2 separate regions of the Homo sapiens genome follow, and region 2 is linked to region 1. Evidence: fine-mapped expression QTL. Tissue or cell type: esophagus mucosa. Region 1 holds a variant in brackets; the other region holds the start of a gene. All regions are shown on one strand. Distances are between the middles of the regions.

Evidence for each region. PIP is the estimated chance that this variant, and not a neighbour inherited with it, causes the effect.
Region 2: PPM1K-DT starts here. The variant in region 1 is fine-mapped to the expression of PPM1K-DT in esophagus mucosa (GTEx, PIP above 0.99).

The regions. Positions count from the first base shown.
Region 1 is chr4:88,314,236-88,322,424 of GRCh38, forward strand. It overlaps PPM1K-DT (PPM1K divergent transcript), which reads left to right. Exons shown (of 5, transcript NR_134238.1): 3 at 2,451-2,572. Among named protein-coding and RNA genes, the nearest start is that of PPM1K-DT, 33 kb to the left of the region's middle. RefSeq lists an enhancer at 6,604-6,683. The variant G/A (reference allele first, on the strand shown) is at 4,867.
Region 2 is chr4:88,280,222-88,288,410 of GRCh38, forward strand. PPM1K-DT (PPM1K divergent transcript) reads left to right here and starts at 4,709. Exons shown (of 5, transcript NR_134238.1): 1 at 4,709-4,840. It overlaps PPM1K (protein phosphatase, Mg2+/Mn2+ dependent 1K), which reads right to left and starts at 4,340. Exons shown (of 7, transcript NM_152542.5): 1 at 4,185-4,340. RefSeq lists enhancers at 4,123-4,182, 4,223-4,312, 4,225-4,748 and a silencer at 4,483-4,702.

The DNA of each region.
Region 1 (8,189 bases):
CAATATAGATAATGCAATGTGTGTTAAAATTCTTGCTTTTTAAACTTATAAATCAATATGAAAATAAGATTGATGCATAGAACAATAGAAGAGAATGTGAATAAGTAATTGTAGAAGAAGAAATATAAATGGTCAATATAAAATGAGAAGTTGCTCAACCTCATTAACAATCAATGAAGTGAGAGTTGGAACAAGACATCATTTTTGAGAGCTATAGATTGATGGATATGAAAAAGATTGATAATATCAAGGATGGCACTGCTATAAACTAGGGCTGTAAGGGCAAATTGCTGTACCCTTTTAAGGGGACAGTAGCAATATGTAACAACCGTTAAAATGCACAGACCTTTTGCATTATGTTTAACTTTGTATACCTGCAGTGATAGCATTGTTATGTTAGATAGTTCTTATCTTTTAGAGATAGATATTGAAATACTATGAATGAAATTTTATAATAACTTGGATTGCTTCAACATAGGCTGCTGAGGGTCAGGCGCAGTGACTCACACCTGTAATCCCAGCACTTTGGGAGGCTGAGGCAGGCGGATCACTTGAGGTCAGGAGTTCAAGACCAGCCTGGCCCACATGGTAAAACCCTATCTCTACTAAAAACACAAAAATCAGCTGGGCTTGGTGGTGCGCACCTGTAATCCCAGCTACTCAGGAGGCAGAGGCACAAGAATCACTGGAACCTGGGAGGCGGAGGTTGCAGTGAGCCGAGATCATGCCCCTGGCACTCCAGCCTGGATGACAGAGTGAGATTCTGTCTCAAAAAACAAAAAACGCTGGTGAGTAGGTGAGGGGAAAGTAGGTAAGAGTACAGATGAAAGACGTGTGGCCATGAGTTCATGTTTGTTGCATCTGGGTGATGGATGAGTACATTGGAATTATTATACTGTTCTCTTTACTTCTATGTTTTAAAAAAACTTTTACAGAATAAAATGTTGAGGAAGAAAAATAAAAACTTGCAATTAAATTTTAACACAGCATTTATTTTTGAGAAAATTTATCCTAAGGAGAGGATCAACTAAGTGGGCAAAGATATAGCTACAAAAAGATTCAACATAACTTTCTAATTAAAGCTTCAATCTGGGCATTGAGCTCTTTTTTATCTGAGCAAAGAACTAGTTTGATGAGATCCTGAACAGTCAACAAACTGGTGACTCTGGCTCAGGAGAAGACATGCATTTCATATTAAAGGTCAAACACCCACAGCCCAATCACTTTTTGATAAGTAATATCCAGCAAATGACACCAATTTTAGCTACCTAATAAGATGAATCTTAAGTGAACTCTAAAGAAAGATACGGTGTTCAGAGTTACATACAGTGAAATTATAAAACTAAGTATAGCAGGTCCTTGAATAACATTTTTTTTCAATGTCATTGTGTTATGACATTGATAAGGAAAAAAAAAATCAATTCCCAGCTGGGCCACTGTTTGTGTGAAGTTTACACATTCTCCCCACGTCTGTGTGGGTTTCCTCTGGCTACTCAGTTCCTTTCCACACCCCAAAGATGTGCACATTAGGTGAGTGGATGTGTCTAAATGTCCTAATCTGAGTGTGGGTGTGTGTGTGAGTGTGCCCCGTGATGGAATGGTGTCCTGCCTGTCCAGCGTTGATTTCCACTTCTCGCCCTGAGCTGCTGAGATAGGTTCCAGCTACCCAAGACCCTGAACTGGAATAAGCAGGTTGGAAGATAAGTGAAAACAAGTTATTATAAAATAAATATTCATAAAGTATATGGTAATCATACAAACACACAACAATAAATGATGTGGTATGAAAGTGCTCAGTGAGCCTGCTATATTCGTTATTGTTTGTTTTTTAACTGTGTAGTGGTAGGAGGAGCCTCTTACTAATTTTGCTTTGCAAATACTTTTGATTTAACCACCACCACTACTATTGCTGTCACTCACTGACTGACCAAAAATCAGGTAAATAAATAAATATCTTACTTGTTTTTATTTACCTGTCTTATCTTTAAACATTTATTTATTTTAATGTTTAATATTAGAAGTGTTTTAGGTCTTTATTTAGAAGTTTGGTAATGTTTCTATGACCAGAAATATGCCATAGAAACATAACTCTTGTTTGTATCAATTAGCCTATGGTAAAATTGGTTTCATTATACATTATTTTGCTTAAAGTTGAAGTTCCCAATAACATATTGGTGACATTAAGTGAGGACTTACTGTACAGAAAATTTGCTCAGTTTTACGTGGGAGTATTCTTTTTTTTTTTTTTTTTTGAGACAGGATCTCACTGTATCACCTGGGCTGGAGTGCAGGGGTGAGATCATAGCTCACTTCAGTCTTGAACTTCTGGGTTCAAGCAATCCTCCTGCACTGGCTATCCAAGTAGCTAGAACTATAGGTGTACACCACCACATTTGGCTGACTTTTCTTATTTTTTTATTTATTCATTTATTTGTTTATTTATTTTTTAGAGCTAAGGTCTTGCTATGTTGCCTAGACTGGTTTTGAACTCCTGGGCTGAAGCAATCCTCCCACTTCGGCCTCTCAAAGTGCTGGGATATCAGACATGAGCCACCTGCCATGCTTGGCCTATGTGAGTATTCTTAGTTGTCATTATTTACATTGTACTATAGACTAAATGTTTGTGTCCCCTCTAAATTCGTATGTTGAAATCCTAACCCCCAATGTGATGGTATTAGCAGGTGGGGGCCTTTTGTAGCTGATTAGTTCGTGAGGGTGGAGCGCCCATGAATAGGATTAGTGCCCTGATGAAAGAGACCCCAAGGAGCTTTCTCATCAACTTTCTGCCATGAGAGAAAACTGGGAACTAGGAAGCAGGTTCTCACTAGACATCAAATCTGCCAGTACCTTGATCTTGGACTTCCCAGCCTCCAGAACTGTCCCCCTTAGTCATCCCACAGTGGTGAGCACCTAAGGTGACTTAACAACAGTTTTGTACTTTGTATCAGATGCACAAATGCATTCTCACTTGCCCTTTGTGTGTGTGAGTGCATTTCTATCTTCTTTTATGTTCTCTTTTTATTATACTTATGTTCATTTCACAATTCTTTTTTTTGTTTTTAAGAGAGTTGGGGGCCAGGCACGGTGGCTCACACCTGTAATCCCAGCACTTTGGGAAGCCAAGGCAGGTGGATTACCTGAGGTCAGGAGTTCAAGACCAGCCTGGCCAAGATGGCAAAACCCCATGTCTCTACTAAAAAAAAAAAATACAAAAATTAGCTGGGCCTGGTGGCAGTTGCCTGTAATCCCAGCTACTCCAGATAAGTCACAAACTCTGAAAAGTCAACAAACTGGTAACTCTGGCTCAGAAGAAGGCATGCATTTCATACTTAAGGGTCAAATACCCACAGCCCAATCACTTTTTGATAAATGACATATCCAGCAAATGTTACCAATTTTAGCTACCTAATAAGATGAATCCTCAAGAGGCGGAGGCAGGAGAATCACTTGAACCTGGGAGGCAGAGGTTGCAGTGAGCCAAGACTATGCCACTGCACTCCAGCCTGGGCAACAAAGTGAGACTCTATCTCCAAAAAAAAAAAAAAAAAAAGAGAGAGCGAGAGATGGGGGTCTCACTCACTCTGTCACTCAGGCTGGAGTGCTGTGATGCAATCATAGCTCACTGCAACTTCAAACTTCTAAACTCAAGCAATCCTCCCAATTCAGCCTACTGAGTACCTGGAACACAAGGCACACTCTACCACCTCTGGCCAATTTTTGAATTTTTTGTAGAGACACCATCTAGCTATGATTCCCAGTCTGGTCTCAAACTCCTGGCCTCAAGCAATCCTCCTGCCTCAGCCTCTTGAGTAGCTGGGATTACAGTCATGAGCCACTGTGCCCACTTGAATCTTTATTGAGTGCTTATTCCTCAAGAAATGCTATAACAAATGTTAGAAATTAAATGGTGAGTCAAAACAAAGTCCCTGTCTTTCCTGGGGTTTACAGTAATACTCTCTCCATGAACATCAACAACAACAGTAACTAATACACATAATTACATTTATTGATTAATTGAATGCTCACATACACATAAAGATATCATTGTCATTATTTTGTCAAGGGGGAAAGGGAGGCACAGAGAGCATAAGGAATTTGCCCAGAGTCATATGCTCTAGTGGTGGAGCCTGTATACTGTTTGTCTCTCCTTTACTATATTTACTCTCCCATGAATTGTAAACCAAAAATAAAATTCTAAGGCACCACAACCATCTGAATGGGCCCCTCCTCTCAGCCAGGGGCATTCCAAAGCTAACCTGAAAAAAATGAGTTCAGGCCATGATGAGAAAAGGGAGCCAAAATGCCTCATTATACCCTCCTCCCTTTTGGAATTACTGATATAAGAGGCTCTTTAAGTCTGATAAGAAATATTTACAATCTATTCTCTCTCAAATCTGCTACCTGGAGGCTTTATCTGCATGATAAAACCTTGGTCTCCACAACCCTTATCATAATCCAGACATTCCTTTCTATTGATAATAACACTTTCAACCAATTGCCAATCAGAAAATCTTTGAACCTGCCTGTGACGTGGAAGCCCCCAATTCCAGTTGTTCCACCTTTCTGAACTGAACCATTGTACATCTTACATGTATTAATTGATGTCTCATGTCTCCCTAAAATGTATAAAACAAAGCTGTGGCCCAACCACCTTGAGCTTATGTTTTCAGGATCTTTTGAGGCTGTGTCATGGGCCATTAGTCACTCATAACTGGCTCAGAATAAATCTCTTCAAATATTTTACAGAGTTTGACTGTTTTCATCGACACAATGTAAATATCATCTGAGATGTTATACTAACCCATTTATTTATTATTCACTCACTACATCGTTATTAAACATCTTTGATGTGCCAGGCATGTGGGG[G/A]TGGCTCTGGGCAAACAAAGAAATATGCTCAGTCCCTGTCATTGAGTGAGGCCCATAAACACATAATTCCAGCACAACCTGTTATGTGAAAAGACAAGGTATATATCAAGTGAAATGTAAACAAAGGAGGAAATGACTAACTTTGCTTGGGATTGCTGAGAAAGACTTTGTAGAAGAGAAGATTTTTTATCAGTGTCATGAAGGCTTAATAGCAACTGATTTGTTAAAGAATCATGAAAAGATCAACCCCAAGAAAGAAAAGGAAACATGGAAGGACCTGGACTGGAGTCACGCCAGTACAAGGAGGATACTGGCAAAGATGAGGTAGGTGGATGGGAAATAGCAGGACTTGAGGGTAAGACATTGAGTTGAAAACAAAATAATGGTTATTGATCAAACGCAGTGGGGCTTAGGCTGGGGAGTAATGCATATGGATCTGGTGCCATTTTGAAGGACATTGTTGAAGGCAAGGGAAAGCGTCCCCTTCACTCTCTGAAGGTTTGCTGAAAATATTTAACAAGAAGACGATTAATAGGAGAAAAGGCATACAAATTTATTTGATCATAGTTTTTCATGACACAGGGGCCTTCAAAATGAAAGCCCTCCACCTCGAGGTTACAGAAAGAATATGGATTCAGAGCACAGCCAAAAACAGGCTATGGTGGTAAACTAGGCTTTAGTGGCAAAACAGGTTATGAGAGAGACAGAACAGGAGGCCTGCCTAGCAAAGTTGGCCTTATTATATAGATGAAACCTCATGGGTAGCAGACAGAATAGATGACAAATTCTTCTTACCTTTACCAAATTCTCTCACCTCTAAAGGTGTCAGACTCTTAATCTTTCCTAGATCTGACAAGGGAATCCTGGCTGCATGAATATAGATTCTCTACAGATGTAAATTTCCCCCAGGAAAGACAGCTTTGTAGGGCCAATTCCGTTTGCTGGCCCTCTGGCAGTCATCTCAAAGTATATCAAAGAAATATATTTTGGGGTAAAATATCTTGATTTCCTTCCACATCGAGGATGAAAGTTGCTGAAGAAAGGAAAAAAATGTTGGTAGCTCTTGCAGTGATCTAAGCAAAAATTGAGGCACTGGAGAGGAGACTTATTGAGGGGTATGAATCAACAGAGCTTGATTAAGTCTAGGGGTTAAAGGAGTGATTGGGTGACTGAGTGGATAATGGTAACAATCAAAATAGTATCTCAAATTCTACAAGATTCCTTTTGAGCTAGAGTTTGCTCAAAGTACATTCAAAGCAGCACCTGTTGAACTCTGACAGCCCAGAAAAACAATAGCTAACTCACGCATGGCTAAATAGCTCTTAGAATCATAGTGAGTCATTGTTTTGGTTATATTAATGGATTAATTCAGTTAATCCTCACAAAAACCTCATAAAGTAGGCAGGACCATATTCCATTTTACAAATGAGGAGATCAGTTCAGGAAATTAGAACAGAGAGGTGAACTAACTTAACCAAGGTGATATAGCCACTAAGTGTTGGAGTCTGACTTCAAACACAGTCAGTTTTTATACTGCCTTGTTTGAAGCCTGGGGTGAAGATGGAGGTGGAGTGCTGTCCTGGGAGTGGGGCTGAGGGATGCAGCACTTTACAAGGGCAAAGTTTCCTACAAATCACCTTTAAACATCTTTCTTCCTTCTCAAAGTTCACACTCACCCTGGCTGCCAAGTGCTCCCTGCTCCTCGGGGCTATTGCTGTGCTGTTCTTGAGAGCTTCCTCCTTCCACCAGACAGTTTCTGTTCCCCTTAGTTCTGAGAAATGTGGCCGTCCTGGCCTAGCACCCTCCTAGGAGAAGTGAAGTCCCCTGCAGATCTTTCTGTTTGTTTGTTTTTCTGGAGCAAACAAGCCCTGCTTTCAATTCAGGGAAAGGTGGAAGGAGAACAGAGGTCTGGGAATGTGAAGAAGCTAAGACAGTGGATTTGATTGGGCACTTGTTTTGTTTGTGGTGTCTCAGGGATATTCAACTGAAAAGAGAAACCACAGAGATAGGAAGCCAGAAGAGGTTTGAAATTCTTTTGAAATACTTACTAAATATTTGCTTTCAGACACTTTGCAGGAGTATTCAAACAGCATCTCCCTGTATGTTGGAAAGCAGCCCGTGTACACAGCTAAATATTTTTTCTAAATAATCTTGAAAAGGAAACTAAACCAATCATGCATCACTGACAAAGATTTTGTCTTTTTTTTTTTTGAGACAGAGTCTCGCTGTGTCACCCAGGCTGGAGTGCGGTGGCATGATTTCAGCTCACTGCAACCTCCACCTCCCGGGTTCAGGCGATTCTCCTGCCTCAGCCTCCTGAGTAGCTGAGATTACAGGTGCATGCCACCACACCCGTCTAATTTTTGTATTTTTAGTAAAGATGGGGTTTTACCATGTTGGTCAGGCTGGTCTTGAACTCCTGACCTCGTGATCTGCCTGCCTCGGCTTCCCAAAGTACTGGGATTACAGGCGTGAGCCACTGCGCTTGGCCTGTCTTTTTTTTTTTTTTTAATAGGATCTGTTCTAAAAGTAATTTATGATTTGCATTCTGAAACTTGCCATCTAGTCAAGTTTAAAGACCCATGTAGGAACAAATATCATAAAAGTACAAAAAATTGATCATCATATGTATGTAAATGTTGTAATTTTTAAAAAGTCTTCGTGATAATGAAAAGAATCCATGTTGACTATAGCAAACATAAAATACAGAATTTAAAAAATTCCTCTTACTGTCACATATAAGCACCATTAACATTTTGGATGTATTCTCTTCCAGACTTCCTGCAATCTCTTTCTTTCTTTTTGATTACTATATTTCTTTATATTTTATTACTACGGTTGTTGCTAGTTTTCCATTTCAAACATAGCTATTTTCTCTACATAATGCATAACCTGCTATTTAAAAAAAAAACAAACTTTGTTTAAAAATGTACAAAATTAACACATTCTCATCCAAAAAAGAGGTCTTGCAGTGAAAAAGCATATAGGGTCAAAATGATATGTTTCCCTGGTCCCATTCCCCAAGGTAGCCTCAAGCAACAGTTTGATGAAGTTCACAAGTTTTTCCAAAAGCAAAGCCATTCTTGAGGTAAATTTTTCCTCCTCATGTCTATAATCTACATTAATATAAACATATTTTCTCTAGTGTTGTGATCTAGTGTTTTTTTTCCTAACGGTGTTTCAGACAGCTTTTTCACGTCGACCTAAAAGGAAGAGGCCTAACACCAAATACGATTTTAAAAGTTTACTTGAGCCAAAGTGGGAAGAGCTGCCTGGAAGACTCAGACCCAGGTAGCCTTGGTTATGAGCACCATTTGGCCTGT
Region 2 (8,189 bases), 34 kb before region 1:
TGCGCCACAGAGACTGGCCTCAATCTTTAGATATTTAAGCAATTAAAAAAAATATGAGCTCTGCTGTCACAGAATTTAGAATAAAGATGGCCACCAAAACAAGTAATGTATCATCAAAGACTTAGGAAGTCATCCCTTCTTGGCCTTTTGGCCAAGATCCTGCATAGAAGGCTGAAATTCATTTCTTCGTAAGACAACATTGTTGGGGGGTTGGAGAGTGGCAGAGACACAGCATCTCTGGTTATCAAAGAGAATTAACATGGCCGGACCCGGTGGCTCACACTTGTAATCCCAGCACTTTGAGAGGCCGAGGTAGGCAAATCACTTGAGGCCAAGAGTTGGAGACCAGTGGGCAACTTTGCAAAACCCTGTCTCCACTAAAAATACAAAAATTAGTCAGGCGTGGTTCCGCATGCCTGTAGTTCCAGCTACTAAGGGGGCTGAGGTGGGAGGACTGCTTGAGCCCAGGAGTTTGAGACTACCCTGGGCAACATGGTGAAACCCTGTCTCTACAAAAAGTACAAAAATGAGGTGGACAGATTGCTTGAGCCTGGGAGGCAGAGGCTGCAGTGAGCTAAGATCACACCACTGCACTCCAGCCTGAGCAATGGAGCAAGACATTGTCTATTTAAAAAAAGAGAGAGAGAGCGAGAGAGAGAAATAACACATTCCATTGCAAGAGATGTTTGTTCTTTTGCTTCTAATTGAGAGTTAGATTTTATTCAGCAACAATTATGGATTCAAGCCAGCAATGGTGTGTTAAAAAAAATTTAAAAACCCAATTATGTTAATTATAGGTGATGAATTGAGACTTCAAACTACAATACAATCTACCAGGTAATGGAAGTACTAATTATTTGGAGATAATTCCCAAAGCAGCTTTATATCATATAGAAAAAAAAAAGAACTTTAAAGAAATACAATTATTAGAAAATATTTGTATTTGAAGAGTTAACTTGAGATTAGCAAAATACTATTCTTTTGGCTTCGGTCTGAAAGTATATATGCCATATTCAGCCTTGAGCTACTTTGCAGTCATGCACCTACTTTAAATCAGAGTTCTGGAATTACAAATAAATAAATATTGAAGTTTTTCTGCAACTGTTCTAGTATATTCTTGCCGTTTTATCTCCTCTTTATCCTCCCCCCAATTTTTTTTTAAATAATAAAATAGAACTGCATTCTCACAGAGAACAAATATCCACTGGAAACATTTTTAAGAAATGAGATAAAATGCAAATTGAGCAGTTTCTGTAAGGCTAAAAACCTGCGTATTTTAAAATCAATCATCAACCTGGCATCCTTCCTCGTGTATTGTTTCTATAATCATCTCAGAAAGCAGGCAGTCATAGGAAACCACCTACTTTAAGGCATATTATTGGCAGAGATGAAATGTGACCCAGATATATAGCTAGTTTATAAAAAACAAACAAACAGGTCGGCATCGCTTAGGTAAACGAGATGTTACGAACTGGCTCCATGTCCTTTTCCATCTGCAATGTAACTAAATCATATCAATCCCCTCCATATTCCCTAAGAAACAATTCAAAGGCAGCTGGAGTTCCCAAAGTAAATAACAACTTTGAATTAAACCTGCACATTAAGAAAAGTTTCCTCCTCCAGAACTCCACAATTGGGATCTGCCATCATAGACCCCACAGCTCTGCCGATGCCCATGGGAATGACTATGCTTTGACCAGCAAGGCAAGGGGAGTAGAACTTGTGATGTGAAAAACAAAAACCTTAAGGAAAAAAAAAAAGCAATCAGTGTTCTCTAAACAAAAAGAGTGGAGAACAAACTAGCAAACACCTAAGGATTGTCTTTTGTCAGTTCAGCAATTAAAAATTGGGATGAGTTCATTATTCCACAAACTAAGAGAGAGAAGGAATCTTTTTAAGTAAGCAGGGGAGATTTAGGTCAATTTTTTGATCGGAAAACATGGCTAGTTTATTTTTATAAACCATTTTAACATTATATTCAATCTTTGGAAGTCAAGTCATCCAAAAGGAAAGCACTTTCTCTGGCAGGAAGGTGCACTGGATTTGAGTTAAACTGTTCTTGTATGTTAAAAGCAGGTCAAAAGGGCAGTTTAAGCACATGCCAAAATTATTCAGGAGTTCTAAAGTTCTGAAACCTGCTTAGATTTTATCCCTCTAGAAAAAATATTTTAAGAAAGCATTCCTATCTGCCCATTATGAAGTGGCATTTAGGTATCTACAACTTCCACAATGAGAACACAGCCCTTTTAAATATTCTTAAACCAAATATTTACCTATCGACCTTTTTAGAAAATCAATTAAGGCATCCCAGTAAATTCAAATAGTATGGAAATTTCCAGAATGTATTTCAGCTAATTGGGACCCCAATACCTTCTTTCTCAATACCCTGCTAGGAGGAAGGGAAAGAAAATTTACTGCTTTACCTGAGGGGAAAAAAGAAAACAACAATAAAAACTCCAAAGGACTCCCCTTAGGTTTAATGTGAATATGTCTATGTTCAGATGTGTGACTGGAGAAAAGTGTGAAATGTGAGCAGTGAAAAGTACTCAGTATTCTATTCCCATAGATATCTTTTAAGACACGTTAGTAAATATGCATACAAGCCACAGACTATATCCCAAACCTGTAACTTTATAATGCCTTTAAGAACTTTCCTTCACAGTCTATTATGTCACCAGCCACTCTCCTCTCTTCTTTCCTCGTCTCTAAGGATTGCAGTCAAGGAATTTGCCTGGGTGATCAGTAGTAATGACTAAGGTTGCAAGAAAAAATTATTAGCGAGAACTCACTACTCAAATATTGTAACTAAGGTATTTTATCAGACACACACACACGCACGTGCTGCTCTTCTTCCTGCCACAGCTGCCTAACCAGAACACCACAAACCATGGCTGTTTTTCTTTTTCTTTCTGAGACAGGGTCTTGCTCTGTCGCCCAGGCTGGAGTGCAGTGGTGCGATCTCGGCTCACTGCAGCCTCGACCACTCAGGATCAAGAGATCCTCCCACCTCAGCCTCCGGGGCTGGGACCACAGGCACATGCCACCACGCCCGGGTAATTTTTGTATGTTTTGTAGAGCCGAGGTTTCGATGTGTTGCCCAGGCTGGTCTCGAACTCCTGGGCTCAAGCCCGCTTTGGCCTTCCAAAGTGCTGTGATCACAGGCGTGAGCCATTGCTACCGGTCTCATTGCTCTTTTTCATCGTCATTGTAATCTGTCACTTTAGTCGCTCATTCTGAAACCGAAGGACAGCCTCATTCCTCCGCCCTGACGGAAAGAACCGATGAGGCCTTGCTGCACGTTAGCAGTGGGAGGCTCAGAAAAGCCCGTGGAGCTTTTGAGACTGCAAATTCCCTGGCTATTTCCACCTGGAGCCTCTTTGTCACATCCGGTGAATTCCCTCATCTACAGAAAGCGGCTGCTGAAAAAGACATCACCAGCTACAACGCCTTGAGTACTACAGCGCTCCCTGCGCAAAGTAAAACCCAAGTCTTCGGATCAAAACCAGCCGGGGCTGTGCATCCTTCACGATGCCGGACCTCCTGAAAAGCTCACCTGGGTACAGCTCAGGATCCTGGCCTCGGCTCGCTGGCCCTGACAGGCGGGTGGTCAGGGTGACACACGGTGGGAAGAACACACGCCCGCCTGCCTGCGAAGCCTCGCAAATAGCTGGGCTCCCTCGGCACCTTCTGCCGCCAGGTCTCCGCCTCCCAACCTCCCTCTGGGCGTACCGAGCCCGTTGTCGCCACGTTTCCCTCGCCCGGGAGGCAACGCGGCACCCACCCCGCAGCATCCTCGCTTCCGGGGCCTCGGGCAAGGGTCTCCAGTCCCAGCCCACCCACCCTGCCCGCCTCGCGCCGCGCTGGCCCTCCAGCCTGCGGCCACATTCAAGGCCGAGCGCAGTCTGGGCTGGAAACCCGCCGCCCGGGGCGCAGGCAGCCCAGCTGGGCCCCGCCTCACCCCGACGAGCTGCTCACGACCTCCAAAGGGAAGAAAGCGACGCTCTGAGAACTCCGAGAGGCCGCCGGCCAAGCGCCGACTCGGGGGGCGGGGGAACGGAAACCGACGTCTCCCCTTCGACCTCCCGGGAAACCCTTCTCCGTTTACTCTCCATTCCGCGACCGCCAATAAAGAACAGCATACATGGTTAGCAGAAATAAATGAATTGCACTCTCTAGGCTCTTACCTCTGGATGGCTACGTCCCTGAAAAATGTTTTAATTAGCTAACGGAGGACGGGGGAGGAGCTTTCTTGGTCGGTAAATAAGAGTGCCTTCTCCGTCGTCTCGGATCTCCGAAGCAAGCAGTCAAAGCGGCCACTGCCTTGCCTGCTGGAAATTCTCGAAAATTTTTCTCCCGCAGTTGACCAGATGGAGAGGGAGAAGTCTGTTCCCGCTGACTGACAGCAGATCCGGCCAGTCCGCACTCGGCGAGACGGCTGGCCGGCCGCCCGGGCCCTCGATCGCAGCCAGTCACAGATGCCGATGGGAACGAGCCTCCCCGCGGCTGCTATTTGACTTCGCAGGCTTCCAGCTGCGCGGCGGAGCGACGTCACCCTGTGCCAGTGGTGGCTCGCGGCGGCGCCCCGCCCTCCCGAGGTTAGCTCCCCAGCCAAAGAGGGGGCGCGCTTGCGCGGTGGGTGGGGCCGCGAGACTTGGTACCTAGCCAGCGGGCGGAGCGCGGAGGGGGTTTCGCTTCGGGCTAAGGGACTGTAGTTGTGACAGCCAGGAAACCGAGAACGGAATGCCAATACTGCTTAGGCTTAGAGTTTGAAAGGCATCTGATTTCACTGCCATGTCTTTGAACAGCAGTGCACAGTGCAGTCTTCTTCGTGGCTGAACAGGTATCTTGTGATCTTTAGGGAATGTCTATTAATTCATTAAACAAGTATTTCTGTGTTTATTGAAGGACGTCTTGTATGCTATACATTTGCTAGGCACTGGGGATACGCCCCTAACACAGCTAGACACGATAGCTGCCCTCATAGAATTTTCAGTCTAACAAAGAAGAGGGAGAAAACCAACAAGTAAGCAAGCACATAGAATAGTAATTAATCATGTCAAGGAAAGAAATAGGCATGGTGTGGACACTGGAGGATAACTTCAGATAAGATTGTTATATGAGAACTTTATAAGATGGCATTTAAACCATCAGTCATTCAGCCATGGAACCAATAAAATGATGAATTGTTTTGGGCAGAGGGGACAGCAGACAAAGGTCTCTCGGTGAGACAGCCCGGCGTTTTGGAAGAACAGAAAGAAAGCCAAAGTGTCTCCAGCATATTGAGGGAGGGAAAGAACAGCATGATGTGAGAGAGATGAGGCAGACAGGGGCTTGGAGTTGGCATTACATTTTAAATTTAATGGGCTTCTATTGAGGCATTCGAAAAAAAGAAGTGAAAGGGTCTGGGTTTAGACTTTACATCACTTTGGTTAGTGTGCAAAGAACAGTTAAAATAAGCTATTGGGAAACTGATTAGGAGATGATGACAGATGAAATTTAAGGTGGAAGATGACTTTGATTAAACTATGACAATATCACTGAAGGGAGAGAAGAGCAGAGAGATTAGAGATTTTAAAGATAAATAATTAACTTGATTTGGCATTTTAGTTATTCTAGGCCAGGGACAACTGTTTTGAATCCAGTGCATTTAATAACCAGGTTAGAGAGTGACTCTCATATTGACGGCTCACAAATTATAGTAATAACCTTGAGTAATATTATGTTGAGTTGATGTCTTTTCATAGACTTCCTGGATTTTTTTTTCTTTTGTCTTTCTTTCTTTTTTTTTTTTTTTTTTTTTTTTTTTTGAGACAGGGTTTTACTCCTGCCCAGGCTGGAGTGCAGTGGCGCTATCTGAGCTCACTGAAACCTCTGCTTCCCAGGCTCAAGTGATCCTCCCACTTCAGCCTCCCAAGTAGCTGTGACTACAGGCACGCTCAACCATACACAGCTAATGTTTATATTTTTTGTAGAGATGGGGCTTCCCCATGTTGCCCAGGCTGGTCTTGAACTCCTGAACTCAAGCAATCCACCCACCTCAGCCTCCCAAAGTGCTGGGATTACAGGCATGAGCCACTGTACCTGGCGTGGAATTTAAAAAAATAATAATTTTATTGAAACATGTGTCTTAAAAAGTGCACATATCCTAAGTGTAGACAGCTCAATGAATTTTCACAGTCTGCAGACACCTTTGTATCCAGCACCCAGATCAAGGAACAAAACATTATTAATACCTGGGAACCCCATCAACCTGCCTTCCAGGCACTGCCTTCTTCCAAGGGGAGTTTCTATGCTGACTTTCAACAGCATAGGTAGTTTTGCCTATCTTTATACTTGTTATATATAAAGCCATAAAGTATGTGTTCTTTTGTTTCTGGCTACTTGGACTCAACATTACACTTGTGAGATTCTTCCATATTGTTGTATGCAGTTGTAGATCATTCATTTTGTTTTCCATTCTGTGGATATACTGTAATTTATGAATTCATTCTTCTGATGGACATTAGGGCAGTTTGCCATTTAGAGCCATTATAGATAGTGCTACTATGAGCATTCTACTACATATCTGTTGGTGATGGCTTTCATTTGATGGAGTATTTTGGTAGCTAAGTTACTATTAAGTTTTTAAAAATCTGCTCATCAATAATGTAGTATCATGTGTTGCAATATCTCAATCATTTGGATCAAAATTTGGTGCAGATAATGAGGACTTTGCTTTCACAAATGTGAAAAATTTTGGTAACAAGAAAGATGTGGGAAATTTTAAGCTTGGAAGTGTAAAATATTTTGAATTGTCCTGGAGTTTTGACCTTTTTTATAACCACTTGCATGCCCAGCATCTGAGAACATCATGACTTTGCTAAATCCTTGTACCAAAACAGACTGGAATCCAGAGTCACATGATAAGCAAAGCCACTTAGGCTGTTCTGAAGAATATCTTTGATACTAAAACAGTCCTTGAAATTGCCTTTGAAAATCACACCATTTCACACTCTACCACAGCTCATTAAAATTAAAGCCAGCAGTTTACTTCTTTTGAATTATATGCTTCTGGGTTTTGAATCTCTGAAGCATAGCTAAATACACCACAAAAATAATTCATGGCCAGCACAGTGGTTCATGCCTGTAATCCCAGCACTTTGAGAGGCCAAGGCTGCCAATCACTTGAGCTGGGAGTTCAAGACTAGCCTGAGCAACATGTCAAAACCATGGTCTCTACAAAAAAATACAAAAATGAGCCAGGCATGGTGGCGCATACCTGTGATCCCAGCTACTCGGGAGGCTGAGGTGGGAGGATCACCTGAGCCCAGGAGGTCCAGGCTGCAGTGAACCATGATCTCACCACTGTACTCTAGCCTAGGTGACAGCACTTTGGGAGGCCGAGGCGGGTGGATCACAAGGTTAGGAGATCAAGACCATCCTGGCTAACACGGTGAAACCCCGTCTCCACTAAAAATACAAAAAATTAGCCGGCGTGGTGGCGGGCGCCTGTAGTCCCAGCTACTTGGGAGGCTGAGGCAGGAGAATGGCGTGAACCCGGGAGGCGGAGCTTGCAGTGAGCCGAGATCGCGCCACTGCACTCCAGCCTGGGCGACAGAGCAAGACTCCGTCTCAAAAAAATAAAATAAAATGCACAATTATTGGTACACCAAACCCCCATGAAATGCAGTTTATCTGTATAAGAAACCTGTTCATGTACCCCAGAACCTAAAATAAAAGCTTTTAAAATGTGAATAATGTGTAAAGGAAATCATTATTTGGTATTTGACAAAAAATTAAAAAATGGAAAAGAATTCACCACAGAGGCTGACTTGGCATGACAGATCACTGCACAATGTACAAAATAATCAAGGGGATATGGCACTCCGTACATTCATTAAGTTGAGCTACTTCTTTATTCAGTTTATATTTTATTTTATTTACTTATTTTTTTTTAGAGACAGGGTCTCCCTGTGTTTCCCAGGCTGGATTGCAGGGACTATTCACAAATGTGATAATAGTGCACTATAGCCTTGAATTCCTGGGCTCAAATGATTCTCCCGCCTCACTGGAGTAGCTAGGACTACAGGCATGCACCATTGTGCCCAGCTCAGTTTATATTTTAAAGAATTGGACCATCTGCTGAAAACCACTGGCTATCAGAAAATTACACCCAAAACAATTCACAGGGCTTTGGGTGGGTGGGTGGT